Homo sapiens: one gene and its partners. The protein of the gene in region 1 interacts with the protein of each later gene in a biochemical or structural test. Each region holds a gene or a part of one and is shown in the gene's direction. Other genes may lie near its edges.

Region 1 (7,544 bases):
CAGGGTGTTGCTATGTTTCCTAGGCTGGCTTCCTACCTTGGCCAGCTAAAGTGCTAGATACAAGTGTGAGCCACCACACTCAGCCTGCTCCAGCATTTTAACCAGAGAAGTTACCATTTCTTCATCCTCCAAAAACTTTATTGTGTTAGGAGATTAAAGAGAAGACACTAGGCTTTTCCAAGAGATGGCTGCATTTGTATGGATGCTGATTTATTCTTAAACCTTTAGACATATTTTATAACATTCTCATTGGTGGTCATTGGAAGAGAAGCCTTCCCATTCCTAGCTCACAAGTTTTCTTCTCAAATATTTTAGCCTTGAATATTTATATAGACACACACATCTATATATATGTATATTCATATATATATATAAATGCTTCAAAATGTTAAATTAGACATCCCCCCGCCCCCCTTCCCAAGTCACTACCACTCCAGGGAAGAGCTTGGGAGGCTTGTTTCTCCTGGTGGGTGTTTGATTGATGGAGGGAAGAGCAACAGGAAGAAATCACCATAAACAGGTTTATGTAATTTGCAGACTACAATAACAGCTAGTTTCAACTTCATGTTTGATTTCATGATACCATCCTGCTTTTCATTGTAAGAATTCTGCATGTCATAAGTTTTTGTCTCAAGCAGAGCAAAACATTTGTTTTTGAAAACTGTGTGATAACTCCACGGATCACCAGGGACATCTGAAAGACTGATATTGAGATTGGCTTTATCTTTACCAGGACTTGCAAAATCAAATGCCCCCAAGGGCTAGGCAGGCTGGGTGGAGACTGTCAAACTGGGTGTTTAAGTCCCATTTCAAGGGGCAGCTTCTAATGGGCTCCAGCCTATTGTTGCCATAAGGAAGCGCGTGCCGTGGCAGATATTAATTGTTTGCTATTTTCTGGTTCCTTTCTCCTCCATGGTCCATGGGAGGACTGAGATTCCTTGCATCTTTGAAATTAAGGATGGCCATGTGACTTGCTTTGGCCAATGAAACGTAAGCTAAAGTGATGTATGTCACTTCAGGAGGAAAGATTTCACTGCTAGTGTTCGGCCCTCTCTACTTCTTTTTCTCTGCCATGGTGGCTGTAAATGCACTTGTTGATATGAAGGTATAAATACTGAGGCATCATCTATAAGACAGCTGCCCTGGAGAATCACCTCAATCCACAGTTGTCTTGTGTGAGTGGGAAGTAGCCTTTCTTTTGTTAAGCCAATGAGTTTGGGGGGATATTTGTTACTGCAGCAAAACCTAGCTTATCCTGACTATTACATATGCCCAATGTTGCCTGACTTTGATATTTTTAAAAGAGAAGTTTGAAATCTAGATTTTTTTATATGAAATCTTTGCTATATTAAAAAAATATTTTTTTCTACAATTATTTTTTTGAGATGGGGGTCTTGCTATGTTGCCTAGGCCAGACTTGAACTCCTGGGCTCAAATGATCCTTCTGCTTCAGTCTCCTGAGTAGCTGGGACTACAGGTGAGCACCACCATGCCTGTCTTTTTTAGAAAAACAAATTTAAGGTTGAAGCCAGAAAAGCCAGATTTTCAGCCTGCCAGCTACGCGTTTGCAATTTTGGTCTATACAATTTGAGTAGAGACTGGAGCAGCAATCCTGTCTGAACTCCTACAGTGCTTATAGCCTGTGTCGCATCATTAGCTCTTAGCTACTCTTTGTCTTGCTATTCATTAGTTTGTAAATCATTTTTCCTAATTAGATGGGACATAGAACAGGTGAGAAATCATGTCTTAAACTTTGTGTACCTTAAAGGTGCACAATAGGTTTTCAGTATATACTAGGATAAAGACTAATTGATTGGCTGATTACTCAGAACTATCACTTTCTCCTTTGATTTTGGAGGAGCAGGTCTGGGGAATTCATTATTTTACCTCACCATTTCAGTTTTCCCCTCTTTACAAAGAGCTCGGGATTCATCAATCTCCATTAAACTTCAAAATGAAATAGTCCACATAAGTCAGAGATGCAAAACCCACTGTATTAATTAGGACTTTTCTAATTGCAAGTAATAGGAAACCCAAATTCAAACTGCCTTGGGTAAGACATAATTTACTGATTCCTATAGCTAAAACCTGCAGAGGTCAGGATGATGTCAGGCATGACTGAATTCAGGAACTCAGGCAATGTCATTGGAACTTGATCTGTCTTTCCCTCCGTGGCTTGGCTCTACTTTTCCTCCCATTAGCTTCACTCTCAGTAGTTCCCTTTCACGTGGGGCTTCTGGCAGCTTCTCTTTCCAGCAGATCCACAAAATTCCCAGTCTTGTGAGATTTTCTTGGGATATGTGACGATCTCTCAATCAGCCCATTGACTAGGGCTGGGCGTGTTAATCAGGACTTTTCTAGTTGTGATAGGAAACTTAAATTCAAACTGCCTTAGGCTGAGTCACTTGTCTGTCCCTAAGAGCCAGTGGTAAATCAGCTCCATCCAGCATCCAATGTCTGCATAAAGGACCCAGTTTATGGCTTCTCCCTCTAGCCACTCCCAGAGGCAGTGACTACGTAGAGGGGCCTAGTAGGGAGTATGTGGCGGAAGGGAGGCCTTGAAGCTGTGTTCTTATAGCGTCCTATATGAAACTGAAAAGCATCAATAGCAAATAACAGAGAAGATCTAATGGAGATTATAGAGAGGTAGAGGGGACTAAAGGCCTCCCAAGTCACCCCTTGGTGCCACCCCTGTAACATATTTAATTTGTGGGGGAAGCAAAGGCCCAGTAGGACTGCTGGTGGCCCAGCCACAGTCCAAAACAGGCCCTAGAGAGGACGCGCTCTAACCACACACCCTAATTATTAGTCCCTGAATATAGATCAGTTTAGTTTATCCAAAGCCCCAGCTGAAGACACATCAAGTACTATTGCCTCTGTTCCATGTTTTGTTCCATATAAACATCCAGACACAGGTCTCATGGGAGAAACATCATGAGGCAGTTTCACAGTCCCTGGCTTTGATCTTTACGCTGTAGTAAAGGTGTCATTGGCCTTTCTGGGGCGAAGAGTCATGCTCTTCCACAAGAGTATCAAATTACTGCTCATTTTCCAATGTATATTCTTTCAGGGCCTTGCTTTCTTCTTACCTGCCCACACCAATGCTGTGAGGGAGACTGCTGATGGCGAAGGTGAAAATGGTCAGGCAATGTCATTGGGACTTGGTCTGTCTCTCCTTCCATTAGCCCACTTCTTTTATCCAGAAAGATTTCACTGCACTGGGGAAATAAGGAGAATAAAGTCTCATGCACTCACTCACATGAGAGAGACATGCATGTTCGGGTTTGCTCAATGGCACCCATCTGTCTCAAGTCTTGTTGTTTCTTTCACTCTGAGCATCTGCACTCCAAGAAGGCATGAACTTTTTCTTTCACTTCCTTTCTTCTATGGGTGATGACCTGACATCACTCTCAGAAGGAGGCCGAAAGTCGCTGAGTATAAAAATCGTCACTCCTATCTGGCTTAGGCAGAAGGTAGGGGGCTCGATGGGTACCCAGGAGCTCTGGAGGTAGGAGATGCCATCTAGGGAACCCCGTTCTACCTGAGGGCTCTGTGTCTCTGCCTTTGTATACTGGAGGGCACCATGGATGTCGCCTTCCCTCTGGAGTCCCCTTCACCATTTCCTCTCTAGAAGGATGGAAGGTGGGAGTGGGGTTGGCTATTGAAGCTGGAACGGGGAAGAAGGCCACTTGGGGTCTGCTGAGGGCTGGGTCTGCTCACTGCTGTGTCCGGAGTGGAAAGGAGAAGCCCGCTGGAGCAGGGTACAAGCCCAAGGGTCAAACTGCGCCAGCAGTAGAGCAAGCCGCGGTCTCAGGCTGCAGCCCTAGCAGAGGTCAGGCTGGTGCAGCCAGCCGTCTCGGGGCCTAAGGGCGCTGGCGGGGGCCGGTGGGTAGGGGTAGGAGTCCCCAAATGCCTTCATCTCAGCCCATCCTTCTCCACCGAAAAATAAAGCAGGCTGGCGAGATCGCCTCCTCACCCGCTCAGTCCTGAAGTGTCCAAGGATGAAACTGTGCGGAAATTCTCCCTGTCGCTCTCAGTTTGTGGGGGAAGCGCCGGGACTGAGGTACATGGTTAACACAGGCTGTGCGTGAAGGGGCTTTTGACTTTTCCCCCGGCTCCGGCCTCTCGCGTCTCTCTCCTAGGGCTGCGGCTGCTGCTGCCTGGCGGGCACAAGCCGGGCGGCGGTGCGCGGGGGGTGCGCTTACATAACCGCTCGCCGCGTCCTGCTTTCTCGAGCGCTCCTGCACCGTGGGGTGGCGGAGCCGGGGGACTGCATGGAACCCGGGACGCCCCCGCGGGGAGAGGAGCGCGAGCGGCCGCGGGAGGAGGGCGCCCAAGGCGGCGGGGGAGGTTAAGGTCAGTGGGTGTGAAGCGCCGGCTCCACACCCCCTCCTCCCCGGTCCCCTCCTTCCCTTCCTCTCCGTCCCCCTCTGACGTCTGGAGCTGGCAGCTCGGCCGGTTCCGCATTCCCGACCCCTCCCCGCCGCCCAGGGGCCGCTATATAGCCGGGGCTGATGCAACCCGTCCCGCCGCCCGCCACAGCCTGCGGGAGGGACGCTCGGCGGCCGCGACGGGGGGCGCTGGCGGCGGCGGACGCTGCAGCGGCGGCGGGGCTGGCGCCGCGGCGGCTCCCGGGCCGGGACAGGCCTGGGCACCGGGCGGAGCTCCGCGGCCGGGCGGCAGCGGCGCGGAGCGGGCACGGCGCCTGCAGCCGGGCCCCGGCCCCGGGGGCGCCGCCTCCCCCCGCACCTTCTGCACGGTGGGTGCGAGGGCGCGCGCTGGGGGCGCCGGGACGGGCGGGGCGGGGCAGGGCGCGGCGCGGGCACCTGGGACGGCCGCCCCCGCACGGGCGGAGCGCGAGGAGCCCCAGCCCAGCCCCGCGGGGAGGCTCCCGCAGCCCAGGGACCTCGAGCTTTCCCCGCGCCGGGCGCTGCAGCCGGGCCCCTCCCGCGAGGCGCCCGGCAGCCTGAGGCTTCCTTTTGGTTCCCGCCCCGGGACGGGAGGCTCCGTCCGCTCCCTGGACAGCCGGGGTGCTCCCTCCTTCTCCCTCCCGCGCTCTCCTCCCCCGTCCGTTTGCAGGGAGGTGCTCTCCTCGGGCGGCGGGGAAGGCGGGGTGAGTGGGGAGAAAAGTGCCCGCGGAGATGGGCTGTGCGGGTGGAGGTGGAGGGTGAAGGGCCAGGGAGGTGCGGGGTTGGGGTCGGGGTTAGATTGTGGAGGGATGACAAGGACCTCCTGGCAGTGAGGAAGCGCGACTCCCGGAGGACCCGGACCCGGAGGAGAGTATTGAGAAGGGCTCGGGATTTCCATCCAATGAAGGCAGCTTCTCTCATGGCCATTGCTTCGGAGCTCTGGGCTGGGAGGGGATCTAGGGGTGGCCGGGGTCCCCTTTGGGCTCTCCTGTCTCCCACGCCAGGTTATATAAGGAGGCAAGCAGGCTCCTGTAGGTAACCAGCCTCTCCCTTGCCCAGCCCAGCTTAGAAGGCTCTCCTCTGCTCCTCCCTTCAAAGGAGGTTGTCGAGGGGTAGGGGTGCAGTGGGGGGTGGGAGAGTGTAGGGGTGGATTGGGCCTTCCACCTGGATCCCTGGACCCTGGGATGGCAGAGCCAGGCTTTGCCTGGGTCAGTAGGAGGAGCAGGGAAGATGAGGAGGCTGGGGAAGATGGGGAGGTCCTGGCTCTTTTGCAGGGATGGAGAGGCTGGTGGAAGGAGAAATCAGCCGACCCCCTTGGGTCATCTCCAGTTGCAAGATGGCGTGGCCCTTGCCCAGGGTGCTGCCCTCCCTGTTGGAATCCAGGGCATGGGGCTATGGCCCGACCACGTGTGCTCAGGGCAAATGTGCTCAGGTCTATATCTCAGAAAGGGCTTGCAGCCTGCTTAGGCGTGTGTACCCAGGCTTAAATCTTGGTGGTCTCTCCCTAGGGTCTTAATTGGAGGAGCATCAGGAATTGGGAAGCTTTGAACCATGTTTGGGTACATTTGTACCCAAACGTCCTTTAAGCCCTTGGTAGAAACTGCATTCGCGTATCATCTCCCTTCCCCCCAACCTTCCTTCCCTGAGGGTTTTAAAAAACACTTCCCATTGCTTTTACCTTTCCAGCAAATCTGGCTGCAGCTTGGATGGATAGCTTATCTTCCTTTGCAGGTTTCTAGGGGAGAGTTTAACCAGGTATCAGGTGTGAGCATGGCTCTGATTTTGTATAAACCTGAGGATCGAGGAAGAGAAGCAAAATCTATTCTCACACCTCTGGGTGGTTAAGGTTTTGCCTTGTTTAGAGCAGGGAGGATGGATTTCTCAAAGACTCTTCTGTTCCCTTCTACTTTGGCTTTGGTTCAGAGCTGCAGGCAGCTCCAGAATCTTCCTGAAGAGCTGGGTGCTGTGTGATTTGAAGGGCTGCAGGAAGTCATGGGTGTGTAGACCTCTGGCTTTTCTCCTAGGTGGGCTGCAGGAAGTCATGGGTGTGTAGACCTCTGGCTTTTCTCCTAGGTTGGCTGCAGCCACCTCCAAGGAGATGTGTTGCAAAGTGGTGACAATGCCCCCTAGGAAGGGTTTGGATAAGGGTCTCCCCACTCATCCACTGCCTAACTTTTGCAGCTACCAGGGAATGCTCCTCCTGACTCCCTGGGTTTGTTGTCATCTCCCTACCTGTTTGTAGGATGTGTGGGCATTTTTTTCCAACCTGCAGAATCCCTGGCAGGAATAGGCTCTCTGGGCCTTGTTTGTCGTGGGGCTACTGGTGTTGCAATGGGCTGTCTCTCTCGAGTGTCTGTTTCCAGCTCCACTCTGGAAAGAAAGGGGCCAACGCCGACTCTAGGCCGGCCTGCTCTGTATTCATTCAGCTCCAGCTCAACTTGAGCAATCAGAGCCAGGGTTGAGGGCAAGCTACATTCTTTTCTGCCTTTCTGCTGCAGGATGCAGTTTGCTTTTTTTCCATGCGAATGAATTATGTTTGAAACCGAAATGGGAGGAAGAGAAAAATGGAGTGAGTGTATATGGGTATGTGTGTGTGCATACCTATATAGGCAGGGGAGGGCAGCAGGCACATTATTTTTCCATTTTCCTTTAATTAAGGCTCTGTGGAGGTGTGTTTGAAAACAGAGGGTCTCCTATGCCTTTGAGGAGGGTGAGAACACTGTTTTGGCTGCGTCCCGGGCCATATGCAGCGTATGGTGGCCAATGAAACCGGGCCTGGCTCATTCTGTTGCTTGTCTTGGCAGTCGGTTCCGTGGCTTGTATTACCAGCTCTGGAACTTAGGGGCTGCCAAGCTCCATGTGCCTGTGTATGTGTGTGTGCGTGTGCATGTGTGTGCACATGCGTTCTTGTGTGTGTGTGTGGTTTGGCCTCTCGGAACTCAGCAGAGACAAATGCCTTAGCGACCCAGTCTTGGAATTTTCAGACTGTGTTTCTTTACTTATTGCTGGCTGTGGGAGGCCTGGCCAGAGCCCACCATTCTTAGTTGTTGTTGTTTTTTAGTCTGTTTTCTTGCTGCAGCCCACGGGATTTAGTTGCAGAGCTCCATTTGCAAAGCTTCAGCTGGCCAGTGGCAT
Region 2 (6,436 bases), on another chromosome or scaffold:
GATCTGCATGTGCATCTGACTGTGCATGGGTAGCCAGGACAGCCTTCTGTGTGTGTACAACTGTATGTGCAAATAACCAGCTCTTGTGGACATACCAGAGTGCATGTCGCCATTGTGGCTGTGTGGTGATGGCATGTGTATGTGACTGTGCAGGATGGCTGTGGGTTATTGTCCTCTTTGAGAAACTGTGTGTGTGTACATGACTAGTGCAGATATATAGTACTGATCTATATGGTACTGTCTGTGTGGCAGTACGTGTGGCTCTGTGTGACCATCTTCTCTGTATGTGGTTCTTGCGTTGCCATCTTCTGTTTTGGAAGTGTGCAAGCACCTCTCTTTGGCACTATGTATATAAAACCCTGTATCTTGTGTATGTGTGTCCCACGTTTGACCCTGGGGTATGTGTGTGTGAGGACATGTCTCTGTCTCTCTGTTTTTCATGTCACTCTCTTGACGTGTCAGTCTGTCTCATGTCCCCATCTGTCCCTTTTTTTTTTTTTTTGAAATGGAGTCTTGCTCTGTCACCCAGGCTAGAGTGCAGTGGTGCAATCTCGGCTCACTGCCAGCTCCGCCTCCTGGGTTCATGCCATTCTCCTGCCTCAGCCTCCTGCGTAGCTGGGACTACAGGCTCCCGCCACCACGTCTGGCTAATTTTTTGTATTTTTAGTAGAGACAGGGTTTCACTGTGTTAGCCAGGATGGTCTCAATCTGACCTCATGATCTGCCCGCCTCGGCCTCCCAAAGTGCTGGGATTACAGGCCTGAGCCACCATGCCCGGCCCCCATCTGTCCCTTTCTGCCATCTCCATGTCTCTAAGTCTGCATCTATTTCTTCTACCTCTGAGTCTGTATTTCTTTTCTTCCCTTCTTCATTTTCAGTCTCTGCTTTTGTGTCTCCTAGTCTCCAGGTTCTGTGTCTCCATCTCTCTGACTTGCATCTCCATGTCTTCATTTGTCCTTTTCTCCATGTCTCTGGGTCGCCATCACTTACTGCCTACCAAAAGCCCCTACCCTCATGCTTATACATCTCTTCTCTCCCTGCCTCAGTTTAACCCAGAACTGGTGCTGGTCTCAGCTGGCTTTGATGCTGCACGGGGGGATCCGCTGGGGGGCTGCCAGGTGTCACCTGAGGGTTATGCCCACCTCACCCACCTGCTGATGGGCCTTGCCAGTGGCCGCATTATCCTTATCCTAGAGGTAACTTTCTCTTGGTCCCTCTTCCCACAGTGGGAGGGTAGTTTGGAAATGTTGGCACCATCACTCAGGACAGTTTCCTGAAATCTCCTTTGAGTGTCCCTGCCTGGGATTGTTGGCACATACTGGGTAGTAATAAGAATAACAGCAACATTAACAGCCTTAATTGAGTGCTCACTATGTGCAGAGCACTCTTCTGAGCACCTCATGTGTCTTATTCATTCAGTTACTTGGCAAAGCAGCCTTATGAGGTAGGGTAAGCTTACCTCATTTTCCTCTCTGAAGATCAGGGAAACTGAGGCACAAAGAGGTGTGATGACTAGCCTGAGATGGCACATTTACTGATGGCAGAACCAGGACTTGAACCCATGCAGCCTGGCTCCAGGGTTTGTGCTTTTTACTCTACCTGAACTGCCTCTAACAAGTTCCTGGGACAAAGGAAATTCACTGACCTTTGTAAATGACTCAGTATCCCCACGCCCTGTGCCTCAGTTTCCTCATCTTTATGAGGCAGGCTAATCATGGAGGAATGCCTGGCATATGGTAAATGCTGGATCTTTTGGATCTGGTTTTTTGTTGTTGTTGTTGTTGTTGTTGTTTGTGAGACAAGAGTCTCGCTCTGTCACCCAGGCTAGTCTGCAGTGGCATGATCTCAGCTCACTGCAGCCTCCACCTCCCGGCTTCAAGTGATCCTCCCACCTCAGCCTCCTGAGTCGCTGGGATTACAGGCACCCGCCACCACGCCCAGCTAATTTTTGTATTTTTAGTAGAGATGGGGTTTCACCATGTTGGTCAGGCTGGTCTTGAGCTCCTGGCCTCAAGAAATCCACCCACCTTAGCCTCCCAGAGTGCTGGAATTACAGGCATGAGCCACCGCACCTGGCCCCTGGTTACTGTTATGCGTTGTTCAGATATTAACCCACTCAGCAACCTTCTGTGCTCTTATTTTCTTTTTCTTTTTCTTTTTTTTTTTGAGACGTTGTCTTGCTCTGTCGCCCAGGCTAGAGTGCAGTGGTGCGATTGTGGCTCACTGGGTTCAAGCAGTTCTCTGCCTCAGCCTCCTGAGTAGCTAGGATTACAGGTGCCTGCCACCACACCCAGCTAATTTTTTTGTATTTTTAGTAGAGACGGGGTTTCACCATGTTGGCCAGGCTGGTGTTGAACTCCTGACCTCGTGATCCACCTGCCTCAGCCTCCCAAAGTGTTGGGATTACAGGCATGAGCTACCATACCTGCCTCTTTTTTTTTTTTTTTTTTTTTTTCCTTTTGAGACAGAGTCTCGCCGTGTCACCCAGGCTGGAGTGCAATGGCGCTATCTCGGCTCACTGCAGCCTCTATCTCCCAGGCTCGAGCAAGCAATTCTCATGCCTCAGCCTCCCGAGTAGCTGGGACTACAGGCGCATGCCACCACGCCTGGCTAATTTTTGTATTTTTAGTAGAGACGGGGGTTTCACCATGTTGGCCAGGCTGGCCTCAAACTCCTGACCTCAGGTAACCTTCCCGCCTCGGCCTCCCAAAGTGCTGGGATTATAGGGGTGAGCCACCGCGCCCAGCCTGTGCTGTTATTTTCACCACTTTACAGATGAGGAAAATAAGTCACTGAGAAATTAATTGGCTTGCAAAAAGTCGCACTTACTATGTGCCCAGTACTGCTTGTGACAGGACACGGTGGGAGTTAAGAACACAGATGACTCCATCAGAGAGCCCAAGTTCAAACCCCAGTGCTGCCTCTTCAGCTGTTATGACCTCGGACAAGTCATCTAACCACTCTGAGCCTCAGTTTCTTTATCTGTAAAAAGAATAGCAACTGGGATTCCTGTAGAGTGTAAAAAAAGTCAATACAGGAGTCCATGTGGAGAAAGAGTCCAGTTGTTCCTGTACTAGGTCAGGGCAGGGGCTTTTGTATGGGTTCACAGCAGTCGTCTTGTGCAGGTCAGGTCAGTGGTTACTGTATGATGTGAGGCCAGGGGTTCCTGGACAGTGTGAAGACGGATTTCTGTATGGCATGAAGGCAAGTTCCTGTATAGATTGAGCGCCTGTGGTTGTGAGGATTGAGTTAATATGCATGAAGTACTTAAAATCGGGTCTGGCACACAGCAAACAATAAATGTCAGCTGTTACTAATGCTTTTATCAGTATTGTTATCTTGCACTTTACATCACAATTTACTCCCCACAACAACCACCTTACACAGTGGGTGCTGCCTATCTTAAAGGTGTGGGTTCTGTTCACTTGTTCTCAGTACTCCCCCTCCCTCTCCAGACTTGCAGGGCTCAGTAGGGAGGATTGGGGAGGCAGGACATGTTGTCCTCCAAATTCCCCAATGAACCCCCACCATACCTTTCCCTCCCCTTTTCCTTAACAAAGGGTGGCTATAACCTGACATCCATCTCAGAGTCCATGGCTGCCTGCACTCGCTCCCTCCTTGGAGACCCACCACCCCTGCTGACCCTGCCACGGCCCCCACTATCAGGGGCCCTGGCCTCAATCACTGAGACCATCCAAGTCCATCGCAGATACTGGCGCAGCTTACGGGTCATGAGTGAGTGGATTTGGGGGTGATGGGGGGAACCCAGGGAAGGAGGGGGCTGAGGGGCAGAGATCAGAGGCAGGAAGGGTGACAGTACCCACACTCAAGGATCTCCCTCCCTGGTTCCAGAGGTAGAAGACAGAGAAGGACCCTCCAGTTCTAAGTTGGTCACCAAGAAGGCACCCCAACCAGCCAAACCTAGGTTAGCTGAGCGGATGACCACACGAGAAAAGAAGGTTCTGGAAGCAGGCATGGGGAAAGTCACCTCGGCATCATTTGGGGAAGAGTCCACTCCAGGCCAGACTAACTCAGAGACAGCTGTGGTGGCCCTCACTCAGGACCAGCCCTCAGAGGCAGCCACAGGGGGAGCCACTCTGGCCCAGACCATTTCTGAGGCAGCCATTGGGGGAGCCATGCTGGGCCAGACCACCTCAGAGGAGGCTGTCGGGGGAGCCACTCCGGACCAGACCACCTCAGAGGAGACTGTGGGAGGAGCCATTCTGGACCAGACCACCTCAGAGGATGCTGTTGGGGGAGCCACGCTGGGCCAGACTACCTCAGAGGAGGCTGTAGGAGGAGCTACACTGGCCCAGACCACCTCGGAGGCAGCCATGGAGGGAGCCACACTGGACCAGACTACGTCAGAGGAGGCTCCAGGGGGCACCGAGCTGATCCAAACTCCTCTAGCCTCGAGCACAGACCACCAGACCCCCCCAACCTCACCTGTGCAGGGAACTACACCCCAGATATCTCCCAGTACACTGATTGGGAGTCTCAGGACCTTGGAGCTAGGCAGCGAATCTCAGGTAAGGCTCACCACACCCAGGTAGGGGCAAGAAGGGGCAAGAATCGGGCTTCTCTGATACATCTCTTACTTCTGCGTGTCCAGGGGGCCTCAGAATCTCAGGCCCCAGGAGAGGAGAACCTACTAGGAGAGGCAGCTGGAGGTCAGGACATGGCTGATTCGATGCTGATGCAGGGATCTAGGGGCCTCACTGATCAGGTGAGCTCAGGGAGAGGCTGGGACTGTGGCTTCCTTCTCTTGCCAATTTGTGTCTCCAGGTAGGAGCATGTGATGAATAAACATATAATGGGGAGATGGGGTCTTCAGCTTACCTAGTTTCACCCACCCACTCCAGGCCATATTTTATGCTGTGACACCACTGCCCTGGTGTCCCCATTTGGTGGCAGTATGCCCCATACCTGCAGCAGGCCTAGACGTGACCCAACCTTGTGGGGACTGTGGAACAATCCAAGAGAATTGGGTGTGTCTCTCTTGCTATCAGGTATGGAGCAGAGGAAGGGGATGGGGCGGAGGTTGGCCCGGGAGCAAACTGCAGGGGGATGCTGACCCCCACCTGACACTCACACCCCCAACCTCAGGTCTACTGTGGTCGTTACATCAATGGCCACATGCTCCAACACCATGGAAATTCTGGACACCCGCTGGTCCTCAGCTACATCGACCTGTCAGCCTGGTGTTACTACTGTCAGGCCTATGTCCACCACCAGGTGGGCCCTGGGTAGACCCTTCGACACGTGCACACTCACCCCCCACACACACACCCCTTCTGTGATTGGGTAAAGGGAGACCACAGGCCCCTCTGCATGGCTGCCTCATGTGATTATTTTGCATGGGGCGGGGGCTGTGGGATAGTCCAGAAGACAGAGTGGTTGAGGGCTGGAGTGGGGGCAGCCCTGCAGCCGAGGTAGAGGGGTCCTCACTCTCTCTCACCTGCCCTATTCTTGCCTCCTCCTCAGGCTCTCCTAGATGTGAAGAACATCGCCCACCAGAACAAGTTTGGGGAGGATATGCCCCACCCACACTAAGCCCCAGAATACGGTCCCTCTTCACCTTCTGAGGCCCACGATAGACCAGCTGTAGCTCATTCCAGCCTGTACCTTGGATGAGGGGTAGCCTCCCACTGCATCCCATCCTGAATATCCTTTGCAACTCCCCAAGAGTGCTTATTTAAGTGTTAATACTTTTAAGAGAACTGCGACGATTAATTGTGGATCTCCCCCTGCCCATTGCCTGCTTGAGGGGCACCACTACTCCAGCCCAGAAGGAAAGGGGGGCAGCTCAGTGGCCCCAAGAGGGAGCTGATATCATGAGGATAACATTGGCGGGAGGGGAGTTAACTGGCAGGCATGGCAAGGTTGCATATGTAATAAAGTACAAGCTGTTAAAAAACCTGGAGAAAGCTTTTTGACTTTGAGCAGGTGGAGAACCCCACATCCCTGGCCAGCAGAGCCGATGAGTAATGAAGGAATGAGGGAGTGGGTCTCTGTCAGGTCAATCCCCTGCCCATCCATTGCCCCCAAAAAACTAACTGAAAATAGAGCAGCCATCTTGACTGGCTCCACGGGATATAAAATGGTAGAATCCATGAGAAAATGGGTGCTTGCCTTATAAATAGGAGCCTCACAGCCAGTCCCAGCCACACCCACACCCTAGGCTGAGAAGGCAAGAAAACTAGCAGGAAGTATCCTTACCAGGCCTGTTTCCCCACTGTCTCATTGGCCTGACTGGGGATGGTGGGAGGTCCAGGTTTAACTTGAATGTGGTGGTCATGGTAGCTTCTTGGCAGAAGGGGTGCCTGCCATTGACCACAGGTGGGAAATTGGAGGACAGTCTGAGAGCTGAATTTCTCCCACGTGGTGAGAATTGCTTTGGCAGCTCAAGGGAGTTGGATCTGAGGTTTCCAGGACT
Region 3 (7,026 bases), on another chromosome or scaffold:
GTTTCTAGGAAACTGGAAACTTGCTTATTTGAATTTCTAGGATGATTTTTTTCATTTTTAGGTGAATGGAATCAGTGAAAATTCATCCTGACTCCCTTGATGTTTCTTTTTAAATAATCAGAAGAGCATGCAACATATATAAAATAAAAATACTTTCAACAGGTCACCAATAATATATAAGAAGTCCCAGGGAAATGGAAACAATTTTGAAATATGCTATCCAGCTGTGGCATTATCTTAAATTTTTATTCAAGTTACAGCTTTTTAATAAATGCTAAAATATAAAAGCTGCCCTGTGCTGATTAGACATATTTAATCAGCATATTTTCTTTGTTTTTAATGTTCTGCCAGTGATGTCCAATTTTATACTTTAATCCTTGCTTGTTTTAAATAGTAAAAAATATGTTTAGTCTGTGGTAAGGTACATAAGTTGTTTCTTCTCCAGAGTGAAGTCACCCTGCTGAGAAATGAAGTGGCACAGCTGAAACAGCTTCTTCTGGCTCATAAAGATTGCCCTGTAACCGCCATGCAGAAGAAATCTGGCTATCATAGTGAGTAATGTTCCATTACCTATAGCCTTAGGCTACGTCAGTGAAATACCGTCAGAGTGAACTGAGCTGCTACTTTAAAAATGGAGACTGTGCTTCTAATATTCAAGATTAAATATCAGAATTTCTGTAAGGTTATTATAGAATGCAGTAGAGAGGTATAATTTTTTAGAATCTAGAGAGTTTGAGTTTTCCTGTTTCTAGCTTTTTTCCTAAGCGTTACTATAGATCAACAAAATGGATTAGCTAATAATTTAAAATATACTGTAAGTACTTGATGATATTTTGTTCATCTTCTCAGGATAACACTTTGTCTTAGATTGACAGGGTGAAACACTACTTTTTTCCCAGCCTCCGTTCATTAATGATGATATTTTTCTTTTTAAAATCAGCTGACTGCCTTTAACAATATATGATATCCCTTTAAGGTATCAGATCCTATTGTTCTTTCTTAGATAATGTCAGCATTGTGTAACGTTTTTATTGTTGTAAACCTTTATATTGAGATATCTAGTTAGTTTATAAAAATGTTAAAACGGGAACAGTAGTTAAATTATCTGCTTGTAAATTTCCTGCTAAATGTTTTCCCAAAGAATGAGATTCTTTTGTTTTCAGCATTTTAAAGGTTAATTGTGCCTTTTCCTTTTTGTAATGTCCTTCTTTTTTGATAAGATGCACAGTGTTGGAACCAGCTGTTACTCTTGAATAAATGGCCAATTTTGTCCATAGTATACAAATTTGTAACAAACAACAGAGTTGGGAATGCATTAGGCAACATTTATAATATATAACCCACAGTTTTAGTCTTTATGATTTAGTGATATTTCAGGATATTAGTAAATGTGAAGATTGTTTCAACCATATGTATCCACTTCATTTTAATTTGCCAGTGTCAGTAATTCAAAAGAAAGAAACATTTTGTATTGGATGCAAACAGTTCCTCAGGTGCTCACGATAAAACTTAATGGCCACCATCTTTACTTGTAGTCATTATAAGCAGTTTCATCAGAATGGGCAATATTTTTTAATTTAAAAGATTCCGTAGATTTAGCTACTCTCAATTGCCATATATATTTAGAACGCTGATTTTTGTCAGTTTTGAGCATATAAATCTTGCTTATTTGATATCTAGTAATTTTGACAGGATGGTGAAACACATTGGAGTAAATTGGAACCATATAGAAATATGTTTGGGATTTATATTAACAATGATTGCTTCAGGGATGAGGCCATTATGGTTCCCATCTGACTTAACAACATAATTTCCTATAGAAGCTACTAGTTCAGCATTTATGCATACGTGATTTTCTTAACAAGAAATCTCTCTTGGATTTTCATAGTTTAAAAGGAAATAAATTGTTTTATAAAATTAAAAGGAAATTAACTGTTCTCTTAAATTGTATCCAATTCAGAATTACCTGTAATTTTTAAATCTTTGATAATTTATTAGATAATCCCAACAGTTTTGACTCTATTATCCAGGCAATGTATGCTCAGCAGATGCAAACCAGTTATTCATTTGACAATTGATTTACAAGATATCTTAAGTGTATAGATGCGTAGGTTTATATACTGTATACTTAAATGACTGAAAATCTAGATTAATACATTTTTAGTACATAGAGTACTAAGTTATGAGAATATAAGAAATGAATAGGATATGTTTGTTGTTTGGAAATAATCCTATCTTTATTCCTGTCTAGTCATGTAGATAATCAAATTAACTGAAATATAGTTCTACCATAAAATTAATTCTCTTCAGATCTTGGGAGATAATTGGATTTTGTAGAAATTTTCAGGTAATTTATATTTTCAAGTTTGAAATCTTTGAAATAAGTCTGACTTCTCTGTTGTGTAGTAGTAAAAATAGATACAGAAATTGACTAAGTGAATACCTTTGAAAAATTTACACTCTTCATTATGTTGTAGCACACAGCTCTTGCTAACAGTGGTGAGTTGTAATACTAGCTAAATCTTTAAAAACATTTGGGAATCAAAACTAAGATTTAGTAGAAATTAAGGAATGTTACAAAATCTTTCAAGTAAAGGTGGAAGTACTAAGTCACAGCCATAGGGTCTGTCCCGCCCAGTTTTAGCACTGAAAGTCCTACTTCCTAAGAAGACCCCTCAGTCGTGGGAAAACCATGACAGTTAGTCACCCCAACAGTTAAGTAATATAAAACCTGAATGAAAATACTAAGAGTACATTTTAAATATTTGGGTTCCATGAAAAATAAAGCACAAAAGTGATCTTATTGCCATGAATTCACATTCTTTAGATCTGGGCATAATTAAAGTTGTATTATAATTGTCTCTATAATTATAAATGGGAAGAAAAGCTTCTTGGGGACTAATCAACCACAAATACTTTTATTACTGAAAATATGTATAGGCCAGGCACTGTGGCTCATCCCTTGTAAGCCCAACACTTTGGGAGGCCAAGGCGGGAAGATTGTTTGAACCCATGAGTTCAAGACCAGTCTGGGTGAAATAGCGGGACCCCATCTCTACAAAAAATAAAGTTTAAAAAAGCCAGGCATTTTGGCACACACCTATAGTCCCAGCTACTTGGGAGGCTGAGGCAAGAGGATCACTTGAGCCCAAGAGTTCAAGGCTGCAGTGAGCTGTGATCGTGCCATAGCACTCCAGCCTGGGCGACAGGGAGACCCTATCTCAAATAAGGAAAAGAAACTTGTGGACATAGGTAGAGAACTTTCAAGATTACTGAATTGCCAAACAGCTGGTTTCTTTTAGCTTAGGTAGAGCTGGAAGTGGCTCTTTGAGTACAGCATGGTTTTCTGTATCTCTCTAGTGCTTGTGATTACACCAGTCATTTTCTCCCCTCACCTAGAACTGGACATAGGTGCAAATATATCACATTGTAAAGGTATTTGATGTGTATGTAAGGTTTATAATTACATAATTGTGAGTACCTGATTCTTTGTACTGCTTAAAGATTTGCTTTACCTAATTCTGAAAGTCTGTAGGTAAGCATTCATCCCTTATAATTTACTGTTTCATTTTAAGTTGTTGACTCCAGTATGTATTTACGTTTCCTTATACCACTCATCACAGATCAGCCTCTTTATTTTTAAAAGCTGGTGTGTCCCTTGAACTCAACATTCAGGGAAACGTCAGCCTGTTGTTCTTTTAAAGAATAGTGGTGAAGTTAGAATGGTGATCATTAAAAAGTCAGGAAACAACAGGTGCTGAAGAGGATGTGGAGAAATAGGAACACTTTTACACTGTTGGTGGGACTGTAAACTAGTTCAACCATTGTGGAAGTCAGTGTGGCGATTCCTCAGAGATCTTGAACTAGAAATACGATTTGACCCAGCCATCCCATTACTGGGTATATACCCAAAGGATTATAAATCATGCTGCTATAAAGGCACATGCAAATGTATGTTTATTGCAGCACTATTCACAATAGCAAACACTTGGAACCAACCCAAATGTCCAACAATGATAGACTGGATTAAGAAAATGTGGCACATATACATCATGGAATACTATGCAGCCATAAAAAATGATGAGTTCATGTCCTTTGTAGGGACATGGATGAAGCTGGAAACCATCATTCTCAGCAAACTATTGCAAGGACAAAAAACCAAACACTGCATGTTCTCACTCATAGGTAGGAATTGAACAATAAGAACACATGGACATAGGAAGGGGAACATCACACACCGGGGCCTGTTGTGGGGTGGGGGGAGGGGGGAGGGATAGCATTGGGAGATATACCTAATGTTGGATGACGAGTTAATGGGTGCAGCACACCAACATGGCATATGTATACGTATGTAACTAACCTGCACGTTGTGCACATGTACCCTAAAACTTAAAGTATAATTTTTAAAAAGTGATAAAAATAAAAAAATTTTAAAAATCACATATAAATACTTAAAAAAAAAAAAGAATAGTGGTGAAACAAAACAAATAGAGCTTTTTAGTATTCCCTCCAGTTAAACTGTCATTGCCAGTATTTTGTTTTCTATATACATGTAATGATTATGTAATGATTATATTGGCTATTTTAATAACTGAATTATAAATATTTTATAACATTCATTACTGCTTGATCAGAAAAGTAGGGGGGTGAAGGAGAGGGGCACTAGTTGAGAAACGACCTGTTGGGTGCTATGTTCACTATTTTGGTGATAGGTTCAATAGAAGCCCAAACCCCAGGATTGCACAATATACCCATGTAACATACCTGCATATGTACCATCTGAATCTATAATTTTTTTTAAGTATTCATTCTGTTTTATATAATTTTTAAAGGATTACTACTTCTGGTGGTTGGTGGTGGTGGTGGTGTTGTTTTATTGTACCTTGAGGTCAAGTATCTAGGGGTATGGTTTTGATTTATAGCATGTTATAGAGAAGATGGGGTTCCATCTCATTAATGTATTTTAAAACCTGCTTTTCAAAAATGCATGGATTTGAGGCAGATGTTGAAAAATTCTGTAAAAACTATATTTCAGAAAATGCACAAAATTAATAATTTTATTTTAGCTAAAGTTGACACTACCAGGTATCCCCCTCTCCATCTTCTACATTGCAAATCATAGGCTAAGTCCTGCTTCATAAGATGTCCACAATTTTTTTCACTAATTGACTTTCAGAATGGGCATCTGGCCATTAGTAAGCAGGCCAATACACATTCTTAGATTTGATTTTAGAAGCCTATTTACTGTCACTCCTAAACACTGAATAAAAAAAGTTTTAATGCCAAGTGAAAAAAGCAAGGTGCAAAAGAATACATCCAGTGTGATACTGTTTTTAAAATGTTTCAAAATAAACAAAGCTGAACTATATTGTTTAGGGATACATGCCTATGTGGTAAAACTGCAGAGAAAAAACGAGAATGGTTAAAGAAATGTCAGAGTGGTGATTACCTTTGGTGAGGACAGGAACCTCCAGGAAGCAGAAGTGTTAATGGCAATGTTCTCTCTTAAGTTGGCGGCTCGGTTCCCAGGTGTTCATGTTATCATTGTTCCTCATAACTTACATATACTATAAATATTTGTGTGTTATCTATATCAAATTTTTACTAAATGAAATTACTGGATTCTGTTCTATTAAAATAAGGATGTAAGAGACTTGTTCAGGTCTAAATATTTGCAGATTTATTTTCGTAAATATTTAGAATGCCCTTTCCTTAATATCTTTTCAGATGCAATGTTTAGAGTTTTATATGGATTTTTACTTGAATCCCAATTTATTCATGCAACTATAACAGCTGGTGGCATTTAGATTCTAAATACTGCTTGTTCTCCTATGTATGCATCATTAGAATCAGGTGTTATAATCATCCATGGCTGCAATAGATGGAAAATCAGTCAGAATAAATACAGTTCTGGAGAATGCAGAGGGAATAATTTGAAGATATAATTTGTATGTAAGAATTCATTTTGTTTATGCATGTGGTTATACATTTTTATCTTGTAATAAGAATGACATGTAGGCCAACCAGACTGAGTTTGTTAAATGTGATACTTAATGTTTGATTGTATCTGTAAGAGACTATCTTCCAAACTCTCCCTCATTTTCTTTCTTTAACACTATTTAGCAAATATTTCTTCAGCTCTATTCCATAAGGCAGTGGGCACCCAGATGTTTCCATATGCATGGTTGTGCCTTCTTTTGACCTATTGCAGGTAAAATTGCCTACTTCATGACCTATATCAATTGCTGTAATACCAACTTGTCTAATCAGTTTTGTAAGATACTTTCTAACTTTTTACTCTGTGTATTGCCTCAGCATACTGGTGCATTCTTACCGATTTTAGGAAAATGAATAATTTTTCTTTTTTCCACCCAGCTGCTGATAAAGATGATAGTTCAGAAGACATTTCAGTGCCGAGTAGTCCACATACAGAAGCTATACAGCATAGTTCGGTCAGCACATCCAATGGAGTCAGTTCAACCTCCAAGGCAGAAGCTGTAGCCACTTCAGTCCTCACCCAGATGGCGGACCAGAGTACAGAGCCTGCTCTTTCACAGATCGTTATGGCTCCTTCCTCCCAGTCACAGCCCTCAGGAAGTTGATTAAAAACCTGCAGTACAACAGTTTTAGATACTCATTAGTGACTTCAAAGGGAAATCAAGGAAAGACCAGTTTCCATTTATGCGAAATCTGTGGTTGTAAATTTTTTTTTTTTACTTGAAATTAAATTTGGCTCTAAAGTTGGTGTAGCAGCAGTTGATCAGACTGAAAAACGGTTTTTAGTCTCTGGAAAAAGACTGATTTTGCTTTTTTTATAAATATTATTAGATTTATTAATTTTTCTGTGCTCAATGTGTAAATTGTATTATAATTCATTGTGATTTATTTCACTTTTAATTTGCTGGTGTTTTAATAAATGGGGGTGTTACTGAATCTTTCTTCCCACTTCCATTTCTTTTGACCACCCCTTAACCCTCAACTGTGACGGTAGTAGTATTATCATTTATACCAAAGTTTTGCATAGTC

What was found. Proteins that work in one complex are often made in the same cells at the same time.
Region 2: the proteins of JDP2 (region 1) and HDAC6 form a complex in vitro, tested with the Homo sapiens proteins (one study listed by BioGRID).
Region 3: the proteins of JDP2 (region 1) and ATF2 form a complex in vitro, tested with the Homo sapiens proteins (one study listed by BioGRID).

What each region holds. Positions count from the first base shown.
Region 1 is NC_000014.9:75,423,494-75,431,037, forward strand, and holds the start of JDP2 (jun dimerization protein 2), read left to right. Parts: upstream 1-4,528; 5' UTR 4,529-4,759; intron 4,760-4,863; exon of another isoform or gene 4,864-5,113; intron 5,114-5,596; exon of another isoform or gene 5,597-7,544. UniProt on the Homo sapiens protein: Component of the AP-1 transcription factor that represses transactivation mediated by the Jun family of proteins.
Region 2 is NC_000023.11:48,819,060-48,825,495, forward strand, and holds the end of HDAC6 (protein deacetylase HDAC6), read left to right. Parts: intron 1-1,046; coding exon 1,047-1,196; intron 1,197-3,125; exon of another isoform or gene 3,126-3,204; intron 3,205-3,560; coding exon 3,561-3,735; intron 3,736-3,852; coding exon 3,853-4,529; intron 4,530-4,612; coding exon 4,613-4,726; intron 4,727-4,862; coding exon 4,863-5,009; intron 5,010-5,106; coding exon 5,107-5,235; intron 5,236-5,484; coding exon 5,485-5,553; 3' UTR 5,554-5,917; downstream 5,918-6,436.
Region 3 is NC_000002.12:175,074,185-175,081,210, reverse strand, and holds part of ATF2 (cyclic AMP-dependent transcription factor ATF-2), read left to right. Parts: intron 1-445; coding exon 446-551; intron 552-6,123; exon of another isoform or gene 6,124-6,211; intron 6,212-6,343; coding exon of another isoform or gene 6,344-6,351; exon of another isoform or gene 6,352-6,375; coding exon 6,376-6,602; 3' UTR 6,603-7,026. UniProt on the Homo sapiens protein: Transcriptional activator which regulates the transcription of various genes, including those involved in anti-apoptosis, cell growth, and DNA damage response.